7 linked regions of the Homo sapiens genome follow. The protein of the gene in region 1 purifies or fractionates together with the protein of each later gene. This does not show direct contact. Each region holds a gene or a part of one and is shown on either strand. Other genes may lie near its edges. The genes, in order: ACP1, PAK2, PITPNA, TALDO1, TXNDC5, ZBTB43 and PPIL3.

What was found.
Region 2: the proteins of ACP1 (region 1) and PAK2 purify together in Homo sapiens (co-immunoprecipitation; one large-scale study listed by IntAct). This does not show direct contact.
Region 3: the proteins of ACP1 (region 1) and PITPNA fractionate together in Homo sapiens (co-fractionation; one large-scale study listed by BioGRID). This does not show direct contact.
Region 4: the proteins of ACP1 (region 1) and TALDO1 fractionate together in Homo sapiens (co-fractionation; one large-scale study listed by BioGRID). This does not show direct contact.
Region 5: the proteins of ACP1 (region 1) and TXNDC5 purify together in Homo sapiens (affinity purification with mass spectrometry, with the first as the bait; one large-scale study listed by BioGRID). This does not show direct contact.
Region 6: the proteins of ACP1 (region 1) and ZBTB43 purify together in Homo sapiens (affinity purification with mass spectrometry, with the first as the bait; one large-scale study listed by BioGRID). This does not show direct contact.
Region 7: the proteins of ACP1 (region 1) and PPIL3 fractionate together in Homo sapiens (co-fractionation; one large-scale study listed by BioGRID). This does not show direct contact.

The regions. Positions count from the first base shown.
Region 1 is NC_000002.12:267,947-271,446, forward strand, and holds part of ACP1 (low molecular weight phosphotyrosine protein phosphatase), read left to right. Parts: intron 1-3,500. UniProt on the Homo sapiens protein: Acts on tyrosine phosphorylated proteins, low-MW aryl phosphates and natural and synthetic acyl phosphates with differences in substrate specificity between isoform 1 and isoform 2.
Region 2 is NC_000003.12:196,830,002-196,833,147, reverse strand, and holds the end of PAK2 (serine/threonine-protein kinase PAK 2), read right to left. Parts: 3' UTR 501-3,146; downstream 1-500. UniProt on the Homo sapiens protein: Serine/threonine protein kinase that plays a role in a variety of different signaling pathways including cytoskeleton regulation, cell motility, cell cycle progression, apoptosis or proliferation.
Region 3 is NC_000017.11:1,535,293-1,538,792, reverse strand, and holds part of PITPNA (phosphatidylinositol transfer protein alpha isoform), read left to right. Parts: intron 1-3,274; coding exon 3,275-3,352; intron 3,353-3,500. UniProt on the Homo sapiens protein: Catalyzes the transfer of phosphatidylinositol (PI) and phosphatidylcholine (PC) between membranes. Shows a preference for PI and PC containing shorter saturated or monosaturated acyl chains at the sn-1 and sn-2 positions.
Region 4 is NC_000011.10:757,464-760,963, forward strand, and holds part of TALDO1 (transaldolase), read left to right. Parts: intron 1-1,486; coding exon 1,487-1,594; intron 1,595-2,658; coding exon 2,659-2,790; intron 2,791-3,500. UniProt on the Homo sapiens protein: Catalyzes the rate-limiting step of the non-oxidative phase in the pentose phosphate pathway. Catalyzes the reversible conversion of sedheptulose-7-phosphate and D-glyceraldehyde 3-phosphate into erythrose-4-phosphate and beta-D-fructose 6-phosphate.
Region 5 is NC_000006.12:7,883,903-7,886,788, reverse strand, and holds part of TXNDC5 (thioredoxin domain-containing protein 5 isoform 1 precursor), read left to right. Parts: intron 1-745; coding exon 746-828; intron 829-2,300; coding exon 2,301-2,430; intron 2,431-2,886. UniProt on the Homo sapiens protein: Protein disulfide isomerase of the endoplasmic reticulum lumen involved in the formation of disulfide bonds in proteins. Can reduce insulin disulfide bonds.
Region 6 is NC_000009.12:126,808,040-126,811,539, forward strand, and holds part of ZBTB43 (zinc finger and BTB domain-containing protein 43), read left to right. Parts: intron 1-57; exon of another isoform or gene 58-153; intron 154-753; 5' UTR 754-876; intron 877-3,500. UniProt on the Homo sapiens protein: May be involved in transcriptional regulation.
Region 7 is NC_000002.12:200,875,578-200,879,077, reverse strand, and holds part of PPIL3 (peptidyl-prolyl cis-trans isomerase-like 3), read left to right. Parts: intron 1-2,040; coding exon 2,041-2,159; intron 2,160-3,500. UniProt on the Homo sapiens protein: PPIases accelerate the folding of proteins. It catalyzes the cis-trans isomerization of proline imidic peptide bonds in oligopeptides. May be involved in pre-mRNA splicing.

The sequences.
Region 1 (3,500 bases):
GTACTCTACTTTTAGATTTTTTCCAACTACTCAACAATGTAAAAATTATTCTTACCGCTGTGGGCTGTACATAAAGGCAGTGGACCATGAGCCGATTTTCAGACCCCTGTTTTAGGTCCAGATCTTGGGAGGCCATGTGAAGACTTGGGCTTACTCTGAATAAACATTGGAGGGTTTTGAGCAGAGGTGGGAAGTGATCAAATTTAAGTTTAAAAAAGAAGAGTTTCAGCTGTTGTTTTGAGATGAAACTGGAGGTGGAGCATGCCTTTACTGGTTGCATTCTGAGGGAATTTGAGCGGTAAATGGCATTTTACTTGGTAGCCATATAGAGGACAGTAAGAGTTGTATGCTTTTGAAATGTAAAAAACTTTGTTCATTCAAAGCATTTGTTTGGACCCTATTGAGATTGAAGTGTAGAAAAGCATCAGAGGTTTTTCATTGGTGAAGCTAATGATGGAAAATAATTGAGCTCCTTACTACAGCACAATTATGAAGGGTGCTTTATGTTTTTGCAATAGAGACTTATTAGTGAAGATGATGCAGGAGCCATGACCCAGCCAGCATGGTTGGTGGAGATAGCACATGCTGGTGGAGTCACTTTACTTCTGGGCTACACCCATACTGGGTGCTGGGTCTCTTACCAGGTATAGCAGACACAGCCCCACCCTCCCAGAGCCTATCTGCCTTTTATGAGTCTCCATCCTTGAATTGAAGATGCTGAAGAAGGGTATAAAATAGTCTGCCTAATTTGGAAAAGACAAACTTGAGACTTTACAGATTGAAACATTTTTTAAAGGCATTTGAAGATGGAATGTTCTGTTTTTAGAACTTGTTTGATAGGCGAAACCTGAAGTACATGCAGTGTTTCACTGATGACCGGGGTGCTCCATTTTTTCATAACAAAATTTGGTGGCATCAACTTTCGAAATCAACAGGGCAAGCTACTGCTAGCCTTTAGGACAGTTAATAATGCAAGTTTTCATATTGTTGTGGGGAAAGTAAGCTGTTATTTTACAGTTAAAGATAATTATTTGTAAACGTGTGGGGCTAGTCTTTATTATATTTTTAGATGCTGAGATACTAGGCATCTGTTGTTCTACAGATCCAAAATAATAATTGTCTTAATTTGGAATACAATGTTTGCTGTTAAAAATATTCCCAGGGTATATGGTGACAAGTAAAAGAGTTACACACCCATGGGAAGCCTTTCAATAATTAAAATAGTGCTGATGACAATACCTGTTTAGAAAACTAAACAAAATTTAGAATGTCGAAAGGAAAAACTTCACAACACAAATTAGCATATAGAGGGTATTCAAGGCTAATTTGTTGTCTTTCCCTTTATGGTTTGTAGGTAAGATTTTTTACTGCTGTGGAAACTACAGTCTCTGTGGGAAAAAAGTACGTAATATGCTTAGGTCTTACAATGTAGAAACTGAAGGCTGTAGTAAGGCAGTGAGTTGGTTTTCTGAACTAGGGAATTAGCTGTGTTTTACAACACTAGAAGATCCTCATTGTATTTGTTTATCATAAACAGAAGACCCTAATAGTGATAAAGAGTAAACTCTTAGTTAGTGCTGCCTATTCTCACAGTTCCTCTTTTTCGTATCTGTTTCCTAAATTCAGCTCCTAATGTCTGGACTCAGTGTGGTGCTTTGGCATTAAGGAGACTGGAAGGCCTCAGAGCAGCCCCAGAAGCAAGGTCGTAGAAACCATCATTTATCTTCCCCAGCGCAGATCATAGAAACTAGAACTCCTCTCCTGCAAAGCAAGCCATAAAACCTAGAAAGATCACTCTCTCCCTTTTGCCTTCTCTTGAAGACAGCATTTCAGAGGGGCCCTGCCTCATTCCTGGGGGAGGAAATGCTGTGGCCCTGCTGGGTTTCCCTCAGTCTGCTACCATTGGATCATTTCCTTTTGTCCAGTGCCATTTCTACACAGCTGTGCATTGGTCATCTAAGCATCAAAACCGTTTCCCTGGGTCTTTGGGTCTTCATTTCTGAAGGCTCTTGTTAACCTGTCTTTTGTTACAGGAGTATCTTCCATGACCTTTATGATGGGTGAGGAAAGCTGCCACACCTTTCCACTCTGACACTGTCTTGTATTTGCTCCTTCATACGAGCCTCTTACAAGGTCTCTCCAATTCAGTCATGTGCTCTTCTAGTGTTTCCTTAGCTGTGCCGGTAATTTTGGTAACTTGTAGGAAGGGTCTGTGTTTTAAACAACTTTCTGTCTTCAGGTTAGGGCACAGTGCTTGGCACATAGAGTTGGCATACAAAATATGTTTGTTGAATAAGTCATATTACCCTTTTCCATAGGACTTTCTATTTCTCCTCATAGTGGCTACGCAAAGTTCAAATGTTGGCCCAGTGTTTTAGGGCTCCTGTATACCAGCCCGTCAGTTTCCAGACACTGGCTCTCTGTACCTGAAGCATCGCAGCCTCACCTGCTTAGTGCCACAATCCCTCTGAGTTAAATGCCTTTCCCTTCCTCTGTCCATTAAGATCCTGATCATCCTTTTAATATCATCTCTAATCTTTCTTTTTTCTGGTAAGAAATTTTCTTATATCTTGTTTTTGCTTTGTAGCATCGTTCTTTTTCTGTGCTGCTGTAGTGTATTGTTTATCAGCATTCATTTTCCCACTTTTATTATAATAAATATAATAAATAAAGTGGAGATAGAGTTCAGCTGAATGGCCAGTGATTCAACCCATTGTGTCTCCCTCCGAAAACCCCAATAAAACCTCAGAGCACTATGGCTCTGAGGAGCTTCCTGGGTTGGCAGTGCTCTTTGAATATTGTCTCATGTTGATGACAGGAGAGTAAGGTGTCCCAGAGGACAGTGGAGCTACCTGTTAGGGAACCTCCCAGAATGTGCCCTATAGGTCACTTGCTTTGGCTGTTTTGTTTGTTTGTTTGTTTTTGTTTTTGTTGCTGTTACTATAATGAAATTGTAATGGTAAGTGTTCTGCTTTCCTGAGTTTGGGGAGTAATTCTAGGGAATTATCAAACCTGAGGGAGCCCTGGGGAACCTGGATTTCTCACTTGCTGGTCTAAAGTAAGGATGGCCCTGATGTCGACATCGTGGTCTGGAGAGTGGTGTCCCTGACCTTGGGCTGCTAATGCCTGGATCTGTATCCCTGGGCTCAGGGCTTTGCATGTGATCGCTCAGTAAATGTTGGTGTTGAATCGCTGTTTATGCTTAAATGCATGTTTGTGTGTTTGTGTATTGTTTTGTGAAACAGTAGTCATCCTTATGTGTGATATACTTGAAAATACATACAGTTGACCCTTCAGCCACAGGGGTTTGAACTTTGAAGGATTTATTCGAGGAATTTTTTTAATCAAGCACAGATGGAAAATACCGTGTTGTCTGAATGAGAAACCCATCTGTATGGAGGGCTGACTTTTCCTATACTTGGGCTCCACATTCTCAGGGGCCAACTATAGGACCTGAGTATGCACGTTTTGGTATACTGGGTAGGGGTGGGAGGGTGTCC
Region 2 (3,146 bases), on another chromosome or scaffold:
TTTTATGCTTTTTGATAGTAAACCATTATTGTGGCTGTTCCCTATGTTAGGGTACCTAAGATTCCAAATTAATTCACATAATGAAGTGATGCCTTACGACGTATTGCACTCTAAAAGGTTTCTTGGTTCACTTAACACAGAAATTCTGATCAGGTTTTTATTACTCCAGCAAGGTGTGTGTTCAAATCAGAACTGTTTCCCTGGGTCTGATAGAGAAACATTGATAAAGAAAATTATTCTGAACTTGATTTAGAAAGGGAAAACTTCCCCTAACTACTCAGGAGGCCGAAGCAGGAGAATCACTTGAACCTGGGAGGCAGAGGTTGCAGTGAGCTGAGATGGCGCCACTGCACTCCAGCCTGGAAGAAAGAGTGAGACTTGTCTCAAAAAAAAAAAAAAAAAAAAAAAAAAGGAAAACTTCATGTTTACTGCCCACACATTTCTAGAAACCTTCCTACTTTGGAGCTTTGTAATAAATTCAAAATGATGGCACAACACCATTAAAAGGTTTAAAACATTTATCACTAAAAATACTAAATGTTCTTTGAAAACCTATTAAGACATTTAAATATTCTTTTATGCTATCAAAAGACATTAAAATATTCTTTTACGCTGATCAAAAGAAAGAATAAAAGTTTAGGAAAGGGAAAAATGCACACTTTTTTTAAAAAGTTTATTTCTAGCCCTGAAAGAACAAAATTATTGAACAAAGTCAAAATACAGCAGTTAATGTCAATGTATAACAATTAAATAATTGAACGGGATTAAATTAAAAATAAAAGGCATAAAATTTGAAGACAACAGAAAAGACAAAAACTACTTTTGCTTAATTCCATTTCTATCAAAACAAGAAAAAAAAAGCCAATGCGTTCCAACCAAAGATGTTGAATTCCACACGTAACTGTTTCTCTTATTACTTCTGTTCTCTTAGAAACACTTCTAAGTTCTAAGAGAACAGAAGTGTGCTTGACAGAACTATCATCCATTTCTTTCTGCCTCTGTCTTGGCAGCTTTCTAGAGAAGTGAATGGGAAAGACTTCGGTTCTTTCAAGGCCAGGCCAGCGCTTGCTTCTTCTTTCGAACTCCAACCTCATCCACCACAGCATCTTTGCCAGAGTGTTCAATCAATGTGTTGACTGAGAAAAAAGAATGTGTGTATCTATTTTTTCTTATATACACACACTATCAAAAAACTGATTTTACCAGTTTCAATACCTACTGTGGGAGCAGCGGAGACAGGAAGACAATCTGCTTTTTGTATTACTATGAAGTTCCACTATAAAAAACCCCAAATGAGTATTAATCTGGATTTTAGCTATAATCTATAATATTTTGACACTGACATTTCACTAGATGTGGATCTCAGTATATTTTAAAAGATTTAGACTCAAAAATGGATGCAAATTCTTTAAGCATCTATTTTGTTTTTTTCTAATTTTAGCTACTACCTGATCAGATCTAAAATTATTCTGGCTAGAATACAGTATATACAAACATGTATTTAAGTGAGCCCTAAAAGAAATACTCATAGGTGGTTTAGAATCGCTTGTTAGAGGCACAGGTTCGTTTACAGTTGCTGGTTACTAGACTGTACGCAGCTGGACACTTCTATGTTAAAGGGAAGAGAATGAATACTATGTGCCAGGCAGTCAACACATGAAGACAGAGTTGTATTAGCCTCAGTGTCTTATGCTTCACAATTACTCGTTTACTTTCAGGTAGGATAAAATGTTCCATGTTTCATAGTTTCCCAGTTTTAATTGTCCCTAAAAGCAGCAGAAGAAAAAAGAAAAAGAGAAGATAACTTTAAATCTAAAATAAAATAAATAAGTACTATAATAATACTGTCCTAATAACACAAGAGGACTATTAAGGTAACTTTCAGATTTAAATGGGAATTTTCATTCTAAAGTGATGACAAAAAGGGTAAATATAAAAGGCAATTATTTAAAAAACATGAGGCCAGGTGCAGTGGCTCACGCCTGTAACTGCAGCACTTTGGGAGGCCAAGGTGGGCAGACTGCCTGAGCTCAGGAGTTGGAGACCAGCCTGGGCAATGTGGTGAGACTCTGTCTCTACTAAAAATACAAAAAAATAGCTGGGTGTGGTGGCGGGTGCCTGTGGTCTCAGCTACTCAGGAGGCTGAGGCATGAGAATTGCTTGAACCCAGGAAGCGGAGGTTGCAGTGAGCTGAGATCATGTCACTGCACTCCAGCCTGAGTGACAGAGTGAGACTCTGTATCAAAAAAAATAAAAATAAAAAACATGAATCTTGATTCAGATATAATTTTTCTTTCAACAAGTTCTGAATGTTTTAAAATTAATAAATCACAATTCTGTATTACTTTTAAGATTGTTTAAAAATGACACATTTCAAAATTAACCAAAGTATATTTCTGTTAGAGGTTAGTTTATCCACGTAACTTAAGAATAAACCACAGCGTAGCTCCCTTAACCAAAGAGCCAGGTTTTAATGACAAGTCAGTTGCCAGCAATGGACGTGCAGGTAACTATCGAAGAAGTCGCAACTACAAATCCCAAACTGCTTCTATCAATGGAAAAGCCCTTTGTTGAGTCACAAGCCTGAAACGAGGCGTTGGCACATAGTCAGTGAGGATGGTCTTTGACTTAGGAGGGAAGTGCCTCTGAGTACATGAGGATCACAGTCTTCTCATCTCGTTGGTTTTCTATTTCATTGGTAGCATCTTCTTTATCATAATCCATCCAACTGTTTACAAAGAATGGTAAAATTTGGAACTCAGGTGGCACTGCAGCTTTCTGCCAGAAATAAACCAGTTTCTATAATTCAGTAATAGCTGTAGAAGGCCAATATATTCCAGAGAAAAATGAAATCAAGAATTATATTGAAAACAGAGACCATTAAGTGCTCTAAATATGTTTCATTAATTATTTTACTCATTTTTCTGAAAATCTTGCCTTATCAATAAAAAACAGTCACTTCTCTCCTTATAATTGCATCTTATCATAGATATAGTGGAAATAAAATAATGGAAATAAAACCTGCCAGTTTCTCCAATGTATACTACAACAGCAAAATTATTTTTTATTCATGATTTATACTACTGCAGGATGGCAAGCAGGGGGGAAGTTAATGGGGGAAGGGGATGGTGGGAACAAAATGCCAG
Region 3 (3,500 bases), on another chromosome or scaffold:
ATACCCAACTTGGCACAAAAGGAAATTCTGATGTGTCTTGCTTGTTTTATTTTTAAAAGTGAGTATTAGGAGATTTCTTGTCTTGAGTTGGGGATGCCACCAGAAAATTAGTGGCCCAAATTTGTGTGCCCTGTTTGGCCTCTGAAAATTATTACTGGACTAAGTAGGTATTGTAGCTAGAGTATTTTGCCCTGCTAAAATGATGCTTAGCCTGAAAAATCGGAGCACCACTTCTCAAATTTATTTTTCCAACTCAGTAATTAAAAAAACATTTACTTCCTGCCTACTGGGTTGTGGAATATTGTCAGGATCTCTGGGTTCCAGGTGAGGGATGCAGAATGCAGGGAAAGACAGGTCCCCTGCCCTCCAGAAGTCGGTGGCGCCTTTTCAGAGTAACACACACTGGAGCAGACCCCTGGAAAAGGACAGTCCACTGGTGGACCATGACCTTGGTCAAAAGAGGGACCAGGTCTGGCTTGCTCACTGTTTTGCACCCAAGAAGTATTTGCTCAGGGAATGAGGGGGTTAGATTCCTCCTCATTCATTACCATTCTTACTAGGCAGAGGCCTCATTGGGATTAAAAGACAGGAATGTAACTCTCTGCCCACTGATAGGGAATGTGTGTTTGCTCTTTGTATCCCAGGGGTGTGATACCTCTTTCCTGTGGTCACTCTGCACTTAAGATATTTTGGGGCCTGGCACGGTGGCTCACGCCTGTAGTTCCAACACTTTGGGAGGCCAAGGTGACCGATCATCTGAGGTCCTGAGTTCGAGACCATCCTGCCCAACATGGTGAAACCCCATCTCTACTAAAAATACAAAAATTAGCCAGGCCTGGTGGTACGTGCCTGTAATCCCAGCTACTTGGGAGGCTGAGGCAAGAGAATCGCTTGAACCCGGGAGGCAGAGGTTGCAGTGAGCAGAGATCACACCATCGCACTCCAGCCTGGGCGACACAGCGAGACTCCATCTCACACACACACACACACAAAGTTATTTTGATTTGTGCATTTCCGAAAAGATATAAAAACCATCTTGTGCTTCCTTGCCCAATATCCCAACCCCCACCTTCAAAACGTTGGTGGATTTTTCAAAAAGCTTTTTATGGAAGTTTAACATATACAGCAAAGTGAATATAAGTATGCAGCTTGATGAATTTTCTCAAACTGGATACTAGCAAAAAGTATGATTCTTTGAGTATTTTGTCAACTCTGGTTGATCTGTGTGAGTGGAGGGAAGCAGTGATGGTGAATATTTATTTTTTAAAGCACACATAAATATAATCTCCTCAGAGGCTGGGCACATTGGCTCACGCCTGTAATCCCAGCACTTTGGGAGACCGAGGCAGGCATATCACTTGAGGTCAGGAGTTTGAGACCAGCTTGGCCAACATGGTGAAACCCCGTCTCTACTAAAAATACAAAATTAGGGCCAGGTGCGGTGGCTCACACCTGTAATCCCGGCACTTTGGGACGCCAAGGTGGGCAGATCACGAGGTCAAGAGATCGAGACCATCCTGGCCAACATGGTGAAACCCTGTCTCTACTAAAAATACAACAGATTAGCCAGGCGTGGTGGCAGGTGCCTGTAATCCCAGCTACTTAGGAGACTGAGGCAGGAGAATCGCTTGAACCCAGGAGGCGGAGGTTGCAGTGAGCCGAGATCATGCCTTTGCACCAGCCTGGGCAAAAAGAGTGAAACTGTGTCAAAAAAAAAAAATACAAAATTAGCTGGGCGTGGTGGCGCATGCCTATAATTCCAGCTACTTGGGAGGCTGAGGCAGGAGGATCACTGGAACTCAGGAGGCGGAGGTTCCATTGAGCTGAGATTGTGCCACTGCACTTCATCCTGGGCGACAGAGCGAAACTCTATCTGAAAAAAAAAAAAAAAAAAAAAATCGGCCGGACATAGTGACTCATGCCTGTAATCCCAGCACTTTGGGAGGCTGAGGCATGTGGATCACCTGAGGTCAGGAGCTTGAGACCAGCCTGGCCAACATGGTGAAACCCCGTCTCTACAAAAATACAAAAATTACCCTGGCGTGGTCGCAGGCGCCTGTAATGCCAGCTACTCAGGAGGCTGAGGCAGGAGAATCGCTTGAACCCAGGAGGTGGAAGTTGCAGTGAGCTGAGATCGTGCCACTGCACTCCAGCCTGGCCAACAGAGTGAGATGCTGTCTCAAAAAAATAAAATAAAAAAATAAGGCAGGGCGCGGTGGCTCACGCCTGTAATCCCAGCACTGTGGGAGGCCAAGGTGGGCGGATCACGAGGTCAGGAGATCGAGACCATCCTGGCTAACACGGTGAAACCCCGTCTCTACTAAAAATACAAAAAAAATTAGCCGGGCATGGTGGCGGGCACCTGTCGTCCCAGTTGCTGGGGAGGCTGAGGCAGGAGAATGGCGTGAACTTGGGAGATGGAGCTTGCAGTGAGCCGAGATCGCGCTACTGCACTCCAGCCTGGCCAACAGAGCGAGACTCCCTCTCAAAAAAAAAAGAAAAAAAAAAAAAACTTCTCAGCTTTGGGAAATACTTTATGAGAGAGAGAAATTTATTATCTTTGTTATTTTTGTTAAGTAGATGCTATAAGTTTGTATCTCCTGAGCCCACATTAGTCAATGTAGAGGGACAGCTGAAAATTAAACTTTTGTTGTGGTTAATTAACACAGGAAATTGACTGCATTATAAATCTGTGAAGTGAGACTCACCAGTAGTGGATAGGTTCCATACACTGAACATTTCCAGTAATGATTTTGTTAAAACAAGCCAGAGGGAGATTGCACTGGAAGATTTAAGGAATGACAGCCGGGTATTCTGAGCGCTGGCTGTATTTTAGAGTCACTTGCAGAGATTTAAAAAAACAAAAAACAAATCTGTGCTGCCGTCACCTGCAGATATTCTCAGTCACTGGGTTTTAGTTGGAGTGACTCAAAAATCTGTGTTTTAAAAAGGTCTTCCCTGGTGATCTGGATGCTCACCCCAGGTTGAAAGTCTCTGTCTTCAACACGGTAAATATGTGCCTGCTCAGACAGTCTGGTGATACTTTCACACTGGCAAAATGGAAAACAAACCCTATCGGAGAAAATCACATAGAACTCTCCTCTGAGGCTAATGTAAACAGTTCTACATCTTGTTTATAACATTTTCCCATATTTGCTTTGTGCCATCAGCATCAAGATCTGGTATGGAGTGAATGCTAATGAAAGATCTGTTCTCCCCATCTCTCACTCCCTCTCCCACTCCCCTCCAACCCCAATTCCACAATTTCTCTCAGGATTACAAGGCAGAGGAAGACCCAGCAAAATTTAAATCTATCAAAACAGGCCGAGGACCCTTGGGCCCCAATTGGAAGGTACCATTCACACCTTCACTGCCAGGGGGCTGGGCAGCATGTGGGTGGGCCGCTCCCTGTGGAGGAGGGGCATGGCTGGGGTGAGCTGGGGACGGCCTGAGGTCTGCCCGTTGTTACTTGCGTACCCATGGGTATGTTTCTAATGCAG
Region 4 (3,500 bases), on another chromosome or scaffold:
TGTATTTGTTTTTAGAGGCAGGGTTTCACCATGTTGCCCTAGCTGGTTTCGAACTCCTGAGCTTGAGCAGTCTGCCCACCTTGGCCTGCCAGGGTGCTGTGATTACAGGCGTGAGCCACTGCACCCAGTCTGGCCCAAGAATTCTAACCTCTGAGCGTCTAGCTGAAGATCTTCCTGTGTGTAGTGGGCTAACAAGGCTGCTCAGATTTTGGAACAGAATCATGGACTTCACTGGGTGTCTGTCCAATAACTTTGAAGAGATAGAAAATATAATATTTTGCAAGTGCCAAAAGATAGAGGGATGCAGTTTGGGATGATGAAAAGAGCTCTGGAGATGGATGGTGATGGTTGTACAGAACTGTGAATGTGCTGAATACATTTTAAAATGGTGGGCTGGGGGCAGTGGTGCACGCCTGTAACCCCAGTGCTTTGGTAGGCCAAGATGGGAGGATCCCTTCAGCCTAAGAGTTCGAGAACAGTCTAGGCAATAGGGCAAAACTCTGTCTCTACAAAAAAATATAAAAATTAGCTGGGCATGGGCCAGGCGTGGTGGCTCACGCCTGTAATCCCAGCACTTTGAGAGGCCAAGACAGGCGGATCACGAGGTCAGGAGATCGAGACCATCCTGGCTAACACGGTGAAACCCCGTCTCCACCAAAAATACAAAAAAATTAGCCGGGCACAGTGGCGGGCGCCTGTAGTCCCAGCTACTCAGGAGGTTGAGGCAGGAGAATGGCGTGAACCGCGGGGGGCAGAGCTGGCAGAGCCGAGATTGTGCCACTGCACTCCAGCCTGGGCGACAGAGTGACACTCCATCTCAACAAAACAAAAAAATTAGCCAGGTATAGAGGTGTGCAGCTGTAGTCCCAGCTACTTGGGAGGCTGAGGCAGGAGGATCACTTGAGCCCGGGAGGTCAAGGCTGTAATGAGCCATAATCACACTACTGTGCTTCCAGCCTTAGCTGGAGACCCTGTCTTGGGGGAAAAAAAAAAGGATAAGATGGGAAATTTTATGTTATATGTATTATTTGGCCACAATAAAAAAATGTTTTAAGAGAAAAAAAAAGATGGAGGGAAGGAAATTTGGCAAAGAAATAACAGAATTTATTTTGTAGAGTCTTGTGCACTTGAACCTCAGAAGCTTCTTTTTTTTTTTCTTGAGATGGAGTCTCGCTCTGTCGCTCAGGCTGGAGTGCAGTGGCACGATCTCTGCTCACTGCAAGCTCCACCTCCCAGGTTCACGTCATTCTCCTGCCTCAGCCTCCCTAGTAACTAGGACTACAGGCACCCGCCACCATGCCCAGCTAATTTTTTAATATTTTTAGTGGAGACGGGGTTTCACCGTGTTAGCCAGGATGGTCTTGATCTCCTGACCTCATGATCCGCCCACCTCGGCCTCCCAAAGTGCTGGGATTACAGGCGTGAGCCACCGCACCTGGCGAACCTCAGAAGCTTCTAACCTGCTTTTTTTCCCTTTGAATTTCAGGTCACAAGAGGACCAGATTAAAAATGCTATTGATAAACTTTTTGTGTTGTTTGGAGCAGAAATACTAAAGAAGATTCCGGGCCGAGTATCCACAGAAGTAGACGCAAGGTAAGGATGCTTGCTCCTGCACTGGATGGGCTGGTCAGGTGTCCACAGTTGCACACGTGGATGCCAACATGAGGTCAAGGGGCTGCTCCACCCATGGTCTTCATCCCAAGGGCCCAAGAGGAGGTTTATTTTGAGCTCTCCCACAGTTGGTAGTGATGACCAAGAGCTCCTTGTTTAGCAACTGATCTCTAGTGTTTTTTATTTTTATTTTTATTTATTTTTGAGATGGAGTCTCGCACTGTCACCCAGGCTGGAGTACAGTGGCGCAATCTCAGCTCACTGCAACCTCTGTCTCCCGGCTTGAAGCGTTTCTCTGCCTCAGCCTCCCAAGTAGCTGAGATTACAGGCACCTGCCACCATGCCCAGCTAATTTGTTGTATTTTTAATAGAGATGGGGTTTGACCATTTTGGCCAGGCTGGTCTTGAACTCCTGACGTCATGATCCACCTGCCTCGGCCTCCCAAAGTGCTGGGATCACAGGCATGAGCCACTGTGCCCGGCTGCTAGTGTTTTTTGTTTTGATTTGTTTTGTTTGTTTTTTGAGACAGAGTCTCGCTCTGTTGCCAGTGTAGAGTGCAGTGGTGTGATCTCAGCTCACTGCAACCTTCACCTCCCGGGTTCAAGCGATTCTCCTGCCTCAGCCTCCCAAGTAGCTGGGACTACAGACACCCGCCACCATACCCAGCTAATTTTTTTGTATTTTTAGTAGCGACAGGGTTTCACCATGTTGGCCAGGATGGTCTCGATCCCTTGACCTTGTGATCTTCCCGCCTCAGCCTCCCAAAGTGTTGGGATTACAGGCGTGAGCCACGGCACCTGGCCCAGTGTTTTTTAATACAAATTATAGCCTATGGATCCCACTGAGGACCTCTGTTTGTGAGACTGGGTGTGAGTTGCTGTCAGAGCCATTCTGCAAACCTCCAGTGAGGGGAAGGTTGAGGGCAGTGGTTGGTGCTCACGGTGGTGCTGCTCAAAACTGACAGGCAGACACCCGGCCTCCAGCTTGCTCTGCGTGGTGGGCAACCTGCGTGATCTGAGGGGATGGGTTCTTCTTGCTCCTACAGGCTCTCCTTTGATAAAGATGCGATGGTGGCCAGAGCCAGGCGGCTCATCGAGCTCTACAAGGAAGCTGGGATCAGCAAGGACCGAATTCTTATAAAGCTGTCATCAACCTGGGAAGGAATTCAGGCTGGAAAGTAAGTGGTCCCCCACAAGGAAGGAGCTCTCAGAGATTTTTCCTCTGTTGGAGCAGGGTCTACATGGCATCAGGCAAGTTTGACTCTCTCAGCCCTGGGGAATGCCAGACTGGGGAGCACAGCCCACAGCTTGGACTTGACCAGCTCATGTCAGCCTAGATCTGCCCTCTGCTCCAGAGCCAGCTCCCTCACTTGCTGGTGATCAGAAATGAGGGATTTCCCAGGAAGTACCATCCACCCACTCAGCAGAGAAGAAAAGCCACTAGTTAGCACCTGCAGATTCAGATTCTGTCCTTCCTCTGTCCTGATCAACACAAGCCTATGTTTACATGATTTTTAAAAAGTAAACTATTGTTATATAAAATATATGCTGGCTGGGCAAGATGGCTCATGCCTGTAATCCCAGCAATTTGGGAGGCTGAGATGGGAGGATCACTTGAGCCCAGGAGTTCCAGACCAGCCTGGGCAACAAAGTGAAACCTTGTCTCTACAAAAATATAAAGAAATTTTAGGCTGGGCACGGTGGCTCCCAGCACTTTGGGAGGCCGAGGCGTGGGGATCACGAGGTCAGGAGATCGAGACCATCCTGGCTAACACGGTGAAACCCCGACTCCACTAAAAAATATAAAAAATTAGCCGGGCATGGTGGCACACACCTGTAGTCCCATTTAGGAGGCTGAGGCAGGAGAATTGCTTGAACCCAGGAGGCG
Region 5 (2,886 bases), on another chromosome or scaffold:
ATAAATCATCCCATTCCTGCTCTCAGGAGAGAATCGCAGATCCATTTTTGGAGAAACACATAGACGTCATTCTGTAAAGAACTGTCAAGGGAGAATGGCTTTAAAGCAGACTACCATGTAGCACCTTTCCCTTAAATTCTCCAGCCAGAGCTTCCATCAGCGTTTTTCACATTGACTTAGAACAGGCTGCTTTCCATTTTTATGTTCAATGTAAAACAGGTATCATTGCCTTTGCTATTGTAACTAGGTTCTTTCTGTTGCATAGAGAGGATGTCACAAAGGGTGCTAGGAGAATAGGGTGGCCAGTGAGAAAAGCGGCTGAGGATGAGACTTCAGTGGGTATCCTGGAGACTCCAGGCTTAGAGGTGCAGACTCAAGTGTCAGACACCCAGGGCTGCCTGGTCCACACCACAGCGCCCTGGAGAGTTTTCAACCTGCCTCATCCCCAAAAGACAGTCCCCCTCCCCACCTTCATCCCCTGTACAGTGTCCAGCCACCTCCTCACCACATCTCCCAGGCTTGGGACCCAGGGACTTGCATTGATCTCTCTGCCCTTCAGAGGCTGCCAGCCTCCCTTTGTGTGTAGCCTATGAAATGCAGATTGTGTAGGTATTTCTGTGTGACCTTGGAGCCTACGTAACTGCATTTTTAAAAAATTACTGATTCGTGTATCTGCAATCCCAAAGCATGGCCCTGCTCAACTTTAAGGGATGTACTTGAACTGTGGCTTTTTCCTCCCTTGAAGGGCACTGTGTTGGCACTCACTGAAAATAACTTCGATGACACCATTGCAGAAGGAATAACCTTCATCAAGTTTTATGCTCCATGGTAAGTGGCTGTTTAATTAGAAACTACTTTGTCCATGTGTACTAAGTCACATCATGTTTTTCAGCTCATCTGCCACCCCTCCAGACTCAATGTTGGGCACATGTTACATTTATATGTAGGTCATGTTGTAGGAAATAAGGAACCGTTATCATGCTCCTATATTCAAATATTTTAAACTTCAATGGCCTTAATTATATATGGAGAATGAGGCTACAGTTATATCAACTTTGATTATATATGGAGAATGAGGCTAAAGTTATATCAACTTTGGAGAAAACATAAAAATGGAGGCAAATTATGATGGCCATATTCAGTTTTGTGGTATCTGCACTTTTCCAAATAGATGGCTTTTCTTTTTGGCTAAACAATGAGTGTCATGATGTAGCTTTGCTCCTCGGTTCTTTTAAGTACTCGGATTTCTTTTGTAGAGAAATCCAGTAGAGTCTGTTAGAGCCATTCAGTATGCTACGCAGTTTCCTGAACCTGCATGCCACGTGGTCTTGGAGACCAGAGCAGAAATGGATTGCAGGTAGTGTGAGATCCAGACAACCTTGGTTCTAAGACTTACCGTGAATGACTGTATAGTAAACTTGGATGTCCTTTAATTCCTTTGAACCCCAGTTCCCTCAGCTGAAAAATGGGAGTAACTTTTTGTCTTCACAAATAAAACAATCCATTTGGAAAAGCAGAGTGTTAGGACAACAGTAGATTGTTTATCTAAACATGATAAAGGCGTCACTTTTCTTGTTTGTTACACTCCACATGTTCCTGAGAAACTAACCATAGGGGTAAAAAGTTAATAAGCACAGGACTTGAACGAACCATAGCAATGCCTTTCAAATCATTTGCAACATTTAAAAACCTAAAGCTCCACAGATCAAGTATCAAAAAGGAGGATCCCCTTTGGCTGAAGGGGAGCCATCCATACGGCAGGAGGGGGTCAGAAGAGACAAGGGAACAGAGTCGGGTAGAAGGGAGGGTTTGAACCAAACTTAATCATGGCCTTGATGCTCACCCCACATCGCTGAAGTACCAAGGAGGCCTTAAAATGGTTTTGAAATTGTGAGACCATAAGCAATCAAATCTAAAATGTCTTTGGCATTCAAGTGACCTTTTAGAAATTGTGTGGCATCTGCCCTGTTCCCTGTTCCTCTGCTCCTGTGCTTTCATAAACCAGTTAGCACAGTTCACCATGGCATGGAAATGGTCTCAGAATCTCAACTTGTTTTGAGACTGGCTTGCTTCTGTCACATTATCTGAAAGTCTACCTTGGATCAACTTTTGGGTTCTTCATTTGGGATAGGAGGAGGAAGAGTTAATGTGCACCCAGTGGGAGAATTTGGTATTTTACAAATTTCTAGGCAATTGTTGACTGTCCCATACAGAAGAAACAGAGCTTGTCTTGGCAGCAGAGTGTAGGTGAATGATCTCGACCCAGGATTTCAACGAAGCTGCCATTTTTCTCGTCTTAGGTGTGGTCATTGTAAGACTCTGGCTCCTACTTGGGAGGAACTCTCTAAAAAGGAATTCCCTGGTCTGGCGGGGGTCAAGATCGCCGAAGTAGACTGCACTGCTGAACGGAATATCTGCAGCAAGTATTCGGTGGGTACTTGGATGGATGCTTATGGGAGCTCTCAGTATGGGGGCAGATCCCAAGGGAACTGTGCCTCAACCACGATAACTCACTCTGCTCTCATCTTCTCAACAATGTGGTTTTTATGTCCCTTTGAGTTGTTTGTTTGGAGAAGCAAAAGAGATCCTCTCTCAAAGGGAAGGCATTCTTCTTCGCCCGCTTTGTAGTTAGTATCCATGTTTCAGTGCAGGTTTTCAGGCCTTGCTGTCTGAGTAACAAGGCCGTGAAGTAACAGACCCCACGCCATAGACTGTGGGGCTTCCCACACCGCGACTCTTGATGATTGACCAGTGGTCTGTAGCCTTTGCCATAAATACCCGAGTCGCTCATTTTTCACACATAAGCCAGCATTATAAAATGCAGTGGCTGAATCTAAGAATCATTTCAACATAACCTCCTTTCTGAAAGGGCCATGCCAGCAAGTC
Region 6 (3,500 bases), on another chromosome or scaffold:
ATGTTGTTAATTTCTTGAAATGAGTACTGTTTCTGCCTTCTGCTTTCTTGATTTCAGCTTCTTATCCTGAATTCTAATGCACGTGAGGGTACAGTTAAAAACATTTCCTTGGCTTTATTGAAATTCAATGGAAGGATGATCGATAAATGGGGGGTTAGTTTCTAGAACGTTACCTTCTCTTTTGAATCTCAGAGAGTTTGCTGTAATAGAATGTTTGTCCTAGAAGTTTTTAAGTAAAACATTCAGCCGTGGCTTAAAATTGAAGGGAATCATGAATCAAACTTCATAAAGCAGGTGGCTTGTTTTTTTAAAAAACATCTTAAAATAGTTTTTACTAAGTGATTTGGCCAAAGTGTTCTAATTAGGAAAAAAATGGAAGAATACTGATTGACAATGGTCAGGAGACCAATAGCACTGTTCCAAAGGATATATTAATTCTGCAAAATTACATAGTCATTGACCATGTTTTCTAGTTTTAATGAATATGCCACAGTAATGGATGAGAGGTATATGGGAGTTATGCACTATCTTTTCAGTTTTTTTGAAAATTTAAAATTATTACAAAATAAGTTTGTTTTTTTAAAAAATACAAAAGCAGGAGCTATGAAGTTGCAGAATGGAATTTAATATAACCAAAAATGCCAGTCTTGATTACTTTTCTTTCTGCCGCTAATGTACATCTCTAGTGTTTATTAGCAAATACACGTGTACATAGCATCTCTTTTACATTTTCACTGTTACTCTTCCTTCCAGAAGTCAATGTGATTTTAATTTGAAGCAAAACTGAAATGGGTTCTTCTTCCTCATTCTATTCATGTTGCTTTTTGATGGCCATGGCATAAGGAACTCTATCCCAGGAATACAGCTTTGCATTAGGTAAGCTATCAACTTGATCACGATACCATTTTTAAAGTTACTTACTGTAATCATTTCTCTTTTAGCAAAAATAATAATGTATTTTGTTAAGATTTTTAATTCCTCTAGACCAGAAGATTCTTTCTTCTCTTCTGAAGAGATGTTACACCTTCTAAGGCCCATCAATGCCATACTTTGCACTGATAGAACATTTAATGTCAGATAAATTTTTCTGCCAAGTGAATTTTTTTTCTTAACTTAGAAAAATGTTAGATTTGGAGTTATACTGCTGTTTGAATGCTGACATGCCATTTCTGAGACGTGTAACCACTGGCAGGTCTTTTAATTTGAGCTTCAGTTTACTCATATTTCAAAAGGATGCAATGATACGGGAGTGTTGCACAACGCAGGTTTACATAGTGTGCTTTGTGAACTCTAAAGCATTTCACTAATGTAAAGAGTAGGCATAGGGTATTGGTGTTTTTGTACATTTGTGCCAGGCTTTAAATTTACTGAAGCAACATTTACTATGTTTAAATATGCTTTCTATAGTAAGCATGCAAGTTACCATATGCTCTGATTAAAGAAACCTCTGAAGGACTTCACAATAAGTAGCTGGTGGGTCTGCTTCCCTATTATATTGCTGTCATCTGTGTTTTTAGGATGTTTAATAGGTGTTTAAATCACGTATAAAATTTGACTTGGAGTTCCTCAGCCGAATAATAAATAGTGGCTGTTATTAAACTCATCAAAGTTGGAAGGAATCTTGAAGGTCATCTAGTTCAGGATTTCTTCAGTATGTTGCCCTTCATCTGCGTTAAAAAAAGCCAAATAGCTTTTAAGAAGCATAGTGGAACAGGCTGGCATCGGTGTGTTTGTTTTAGAACTGTTGCTATTGGATTAAAAAAATAAAATACATGTGCAAAGTGGCATAAAACTGCTGGTATCTTTTTTTTTTTGAGACAGAGTCTCGCTTTGTCGCCCAGGCTAGAGTGCAGTGGCAGGATCTCAGCTCACTGCAAGCTCCACCTCCCAGGCTCAAGCAGTTCTCTGCCTCAGCCTTCAGAGTAGCTGGGATTACAGGTGCCGGCCACCACACCCGGCTAATTTTTTTGTATTTTTAGTAGAGATGGGGTTTCACCATCTTGGCCAGACTGGTCTTGAACTCCTGACCTTGTGATCCACGGGCCTCAGCCTCCCAAAGTGCTGGGATTACAGACGTGAGCCACCGCGCCCGGCCCACTAACTGCTGGTATCTTATTAAGGTTTTTGTTTGTTTGTTCATTTGTTTGTTTATTTGTTTGTTTGTTTGTTTTTGAGATGGAGTCTCGCTCTTGTTGCCCAGGCTGGAGTGCAGTGGCAGAATCTCCGCTCACTGCAACCTCTGCCTCCCAGGTTCAAGAGATTTTCCTTCCTCAGCCTCCTGAGTAGCTGGGATTACAGGCATCTGTCAGCATGCCCAGCTAATTTTGTATTTTTAGTAGAGACAGGGTTTCGCCTTCTTGGCCAGGCCAGTCTCAAACTCCTGACCACAGGTGATCCACCGTCTCGTGCTCCCAAAGTGCTGGGATTACAGGCATGAGCCACTGTGCCCAGCCGTCTTTTTTTTTTTTTTTTTTTTTTTTGAGATGGGGTCTCGCTCTGTCACACAGGCTGGAGCGCGTGGCGAGATCTTGGCTCACTGCGACCTCTGCCTCCCGGGTTCAAGTGATTCTCCTGCCTCAGCCTCCCAGGTAGCTGGGACTACAGGCATGGGCCACCATGCACAGCTAATTTTTTTTTGTACTTTTAGTAGAGAAGGGGTTTCACCATGTTGGCCAGGATGGTCTCCATCTTTTGACCTGGTGATCCGCCCGCCTCGGCCTCCCAAAGTACTGGGATTACAGGAGTGAGCCACCATGCCTGGCTTGGGCCATCTTAAGTCTAAGGATGGTCAGCGTGCGAAAGTTTGTGAATGCATTGTATATAATAAAATTATATAGATTATTTGTGAAAATGATATTCACGTTTACTTTCCATACTCTGAAACTATAGTGATATTCACAGCCAGGCACGATGGCTCATGCCTGTAATCCCAGCACTTTGGGAGGCCAAGGTGGGCAGATCACATGAGGGTCAGGAGTTCGAGACCAACCTGGCCAACATGGTGAAACCCCATCTCTACTAAAAACACAAAAATTAGCTGGGCGTGGTGTCACGCACCTGTGGTCTCAGCTACTCAGGAGGCTGAGGCAGGAGAATCGCTTGAACCTGGGAGGCGGAGGTTACAGTGAGCTGAAGTGGCACCACTGCCCTCCAGCCTGGGCGACAGAGACTCCATCTCAAAAAAAAAAAAAAAAAGAAGAAAAAATTATATTCACCTTTTCTTTCCACCTCTTAAGCTATAGTGGGCCTGAACAAGTACTTTGGATTTAAATCTCAATTTTACTGCTTACCAGTTATATGACCTTAAGTTGCTTAGCTTTTTTGTCTATCTCCAATTCTGTACAATGGAAGTAAAAAATACCTATTGAGTGGGTTGCTGTGAAGATTAAGTGAGACAGAGCATATAAAGTGCTTTGCATAGACTTTGTACAATGTCTGTATTAAGCAGTTTATATATTTGTATATGTATGTCATAAATAGTAGTTGCTGTTATTTCCTAT
Region 7 (3,500 bases), about 200 Mb from region 1:
GACTCTTCATATATTCTGGCCCAGGAATTCCATTCCCAAATGTTTACTCAAGAGAAACTTGTAAGTTTGCACCAAGAGACATGTACAGGAGTGTTCTGATGTACTGTTTGTAATAGCAAAAGTCTAGAAACAACCCAAATGTCCACTGATTGTAGATGAATCACTATGTAGATTGTGGATAAATTGTAGTATATTCAGTAGTGAAATATCACATAGTAGTAAAAAAATAGTAATAAACTATGGCTATATGTACATGTATAACCTTAGAAATGTAACAATGTTATTTGTAGAAAGCATTTCCCAGAAGACTAAAATGTTACGATGTAATTATATTCAGAAGGAAAAGGAAAGAATGTGTTGTTTAGGCATGTGTAAATGTGTTAGGGCTGGGCACAGTGGCTCACTCTTATAATCCCAGCACTTTAGGGGGCCGAGGTGAGAGGAACAAGTACTTGAGGCCAGGAGTTTGAGATCAGCCTGAGCAACATATTGAGCCCTCATCTCTACTAAAAGTTAAAAAATTAGCCAGGTATGGAGGTGTACATCTGTAGTCTCAGCTACTCAGGAGGCCAAGGTGGAAGGATTGCTCAAGCCTAGGAGGTCAAGGCTACAGTGAGCTATGATTGCACCACTGCACTCTAACCTGGGTGACAGAGTGAGACCCTGTCTCTAAAAAAAAAAAAAAATGAAAAAATGAAAAAAAAAAGGTATTAGAATAGTGGTTACCTCTTGTAGAGGCTGAGGTAATAAATGGAGAGGAGCACATGGATATATGTAATTAATTGGTAACTTTTATTTTTTCTTGAGCTCCCATTATTCAATGAATTGGTAAATTTTAACTCTGAAAGCTGGGAAATATGTTAATGGGTGCTTATTTTATTAACTTACATTTTTATTAACTATATTTTTGTGTATGTATTAAATATTGTGTATGTATTAAATATTACATGTGTATTTAATATTACATTTGATTGGTGGACACCTTTTAGGGAGACAAGCATTAATATTTTGATATAGGTGCTTCTCTATGACTTATTAGCGTCACCCAATGAATAGCTAAAGCTAGAGTAATTGGTGGAGTTGTAGTGTATTACAGGCACCTCCCTGTAACATAGTTCACAGTTACATCTTCATTCTTATCAGTAAGGTCCTTTTAATTTCTATACACTGTCTCTTGTAAACAAATACTATCATGATAGTAGAGCTAGGTGAGACCTTTCTTAGATCGTTCAGTCCTGGGGTTATAAACTGACTGCCCATGAGTGGAACACCCACAGATGCATTATCTGTGGCCCTTAGTTAAAAAATATATATTTAATGTCATTAATCAAGAGATAGCCTATTCATTTTGCCAGACTTCATCTCTCTCTAATGTTTACATTCTGCCCAATTGTCAGTTTATCTGCTTGACCCTTGTGAGCATCTGAGTTATAAATAGACCCTTGAACTAGTCCAGCCTCCCTTGTTTTACAGATAAAGAAACTAGCAAGAGTCCATTGTATGTGAGAAGAGATTGTGGGCATTTTGGTTTTGTTGCCTGCCTGATCATTTCATTCCAGCACACTATTCCTTAATATAAATGTAAGGATTATTTCTATTATTTGTTGGTATTGCAAAAAGTGTCCATGGCTGTATTTCTTCAAAGTGAAAATGAAATTAATTGAGAAATATTATTTGATATATTAACCTTTTACATACAAGTTTTCAAAGGTACAGAAAAGGCAGAAACTGAACATTTGGATTATCCCTAATAGAGAGAAGTTGGTTAAATGTTTTCTTGCTCCCTTAAATATTGTGAAGGTAAAGATTGAATGTCTTGGCTGGGTGTGCTGATTCACACCTGTAATCCCAACACTTTGGAAGCTAAGGCAGGAGGATCACTTGAGCCTAGGAGTTAGAGACCAGCCTGAGCAACATAGTGAGACCCCAATCTCAAAATATTTTTAAAAAAGAAAACAAAGGTGTGCCTGTCTTGTTTCAATACTATATTTGGGATGGTTATATAAAAACACAGTTAATACTTTGATGTGTCTTTTTCAGCACAATGTTAGAGGTGTTGTATCTATGGCTAATAATGGCCCGAACACCAATGGATCTCAGTTCTTCATCACCTATGGCAAACAGCCACATTTGGACATGAAATACACCGTATTTGGAAAGTGAGTATTCTGGTTATGGTTTTCTTTTAGCATTTCAATGCAAGTGGTGCATATGCTTAGCTGTGACAGTAGCATAACTAATATTGAAAAGAGTGAGGCCGAGCGCAGTGCCTCACACCTGTAATCCCAGCACTTTGGGAGGCCAAGGTGGGCAGATTGTCTGAGGTCAGGAGTTCGAGACCAGCCTGGCCAATGTGGCAGAACCCCTGTCTCTACTAAAAATATTTTAAAAAATTAGTTGGATGTGGTGGCACACACCTGTAGTCCCAGCTACTCAGGAGGCTGAAGCAGGAGAATTGCTTGAACCTGGGAGGCGGAAGTTACAGTGAGCCGTGATCATGCCATTGCACTCCAGCCTGGGCGACAGAGTGAGACTCTGCCTCAAAAAAAAAAAAAAAAAATGAAAAGAAAAGAAAGAAAAGAAGAGTGGTGTGAGAGCTAAACGTACCTGGAGTTTAAGTCTACCACTTAGCAACCCTGTGACCTTGGGAAAGTTATAATCTCCCTGAGCTTTATTTTCCTTATTTTGTAAAAGAGGCCAGTAATTTTTCAATATTGTTATGCAAATTAACATAGTATATCTATTTTCTTTTTCTTTTTCTTTTTTTGAGACGAAAGGCTCTGTCGCCAGGCTGGAGTATGGTGCAGTAGCACAGTCATGGCTCATTGCAGCCTCAACCTCCTGGTCTCAAGTGATCTTCTCACCTCAGCCTCTTGAGTAACTGGAACCACAAATGTGTACCATCATGCGCAGCTACTTTAAAAAAAAAAAAAACAAAAAAAACACTTTTTTTTTAGAGACATGGTCTCACTATGTTGCCCAGGCTGGTCCATTTTCATTAATGATAGCATTTCACAGCAACTAACAGATCTGAAAAATAGTGGCTTAAACAAGATGGACTGGCATGGTGGTTCCATTTTGTTACCAGTGTTCTAGGCGCCTCTGTCATAATATTGGCAGCACAGCTCTTATCAAAACTTCTGTGTATCAGGGAGGAAAGGGGAGGAAAGACAAAAGGTGCTTGCCAGCTGATTCACCTTTTTTAATTAACAGAACTTTCCCAGGCCTGTAATCCCAGTGCTTTGGGAGGCTGAGACAGGAGGATCACTTGAGGCCAGGAGTTCAAGACCAGCCTGTGGAACATAGCAGAACCCATCTCTATAAAAAAAATTTAAAAATTAGCCAAGTGTGGTGACACACACCTGTAATCCCAACTACTCAGGAGGCTGAGGTGGGAGAATCACTTGAGCCCAGGAGTTCCAGGCTGCATGAGCTGAGATCACACTTCTGTACTCCAGCCTGGGCAACAATGATACCCTATCTCTAAAAAAAAAAAGATA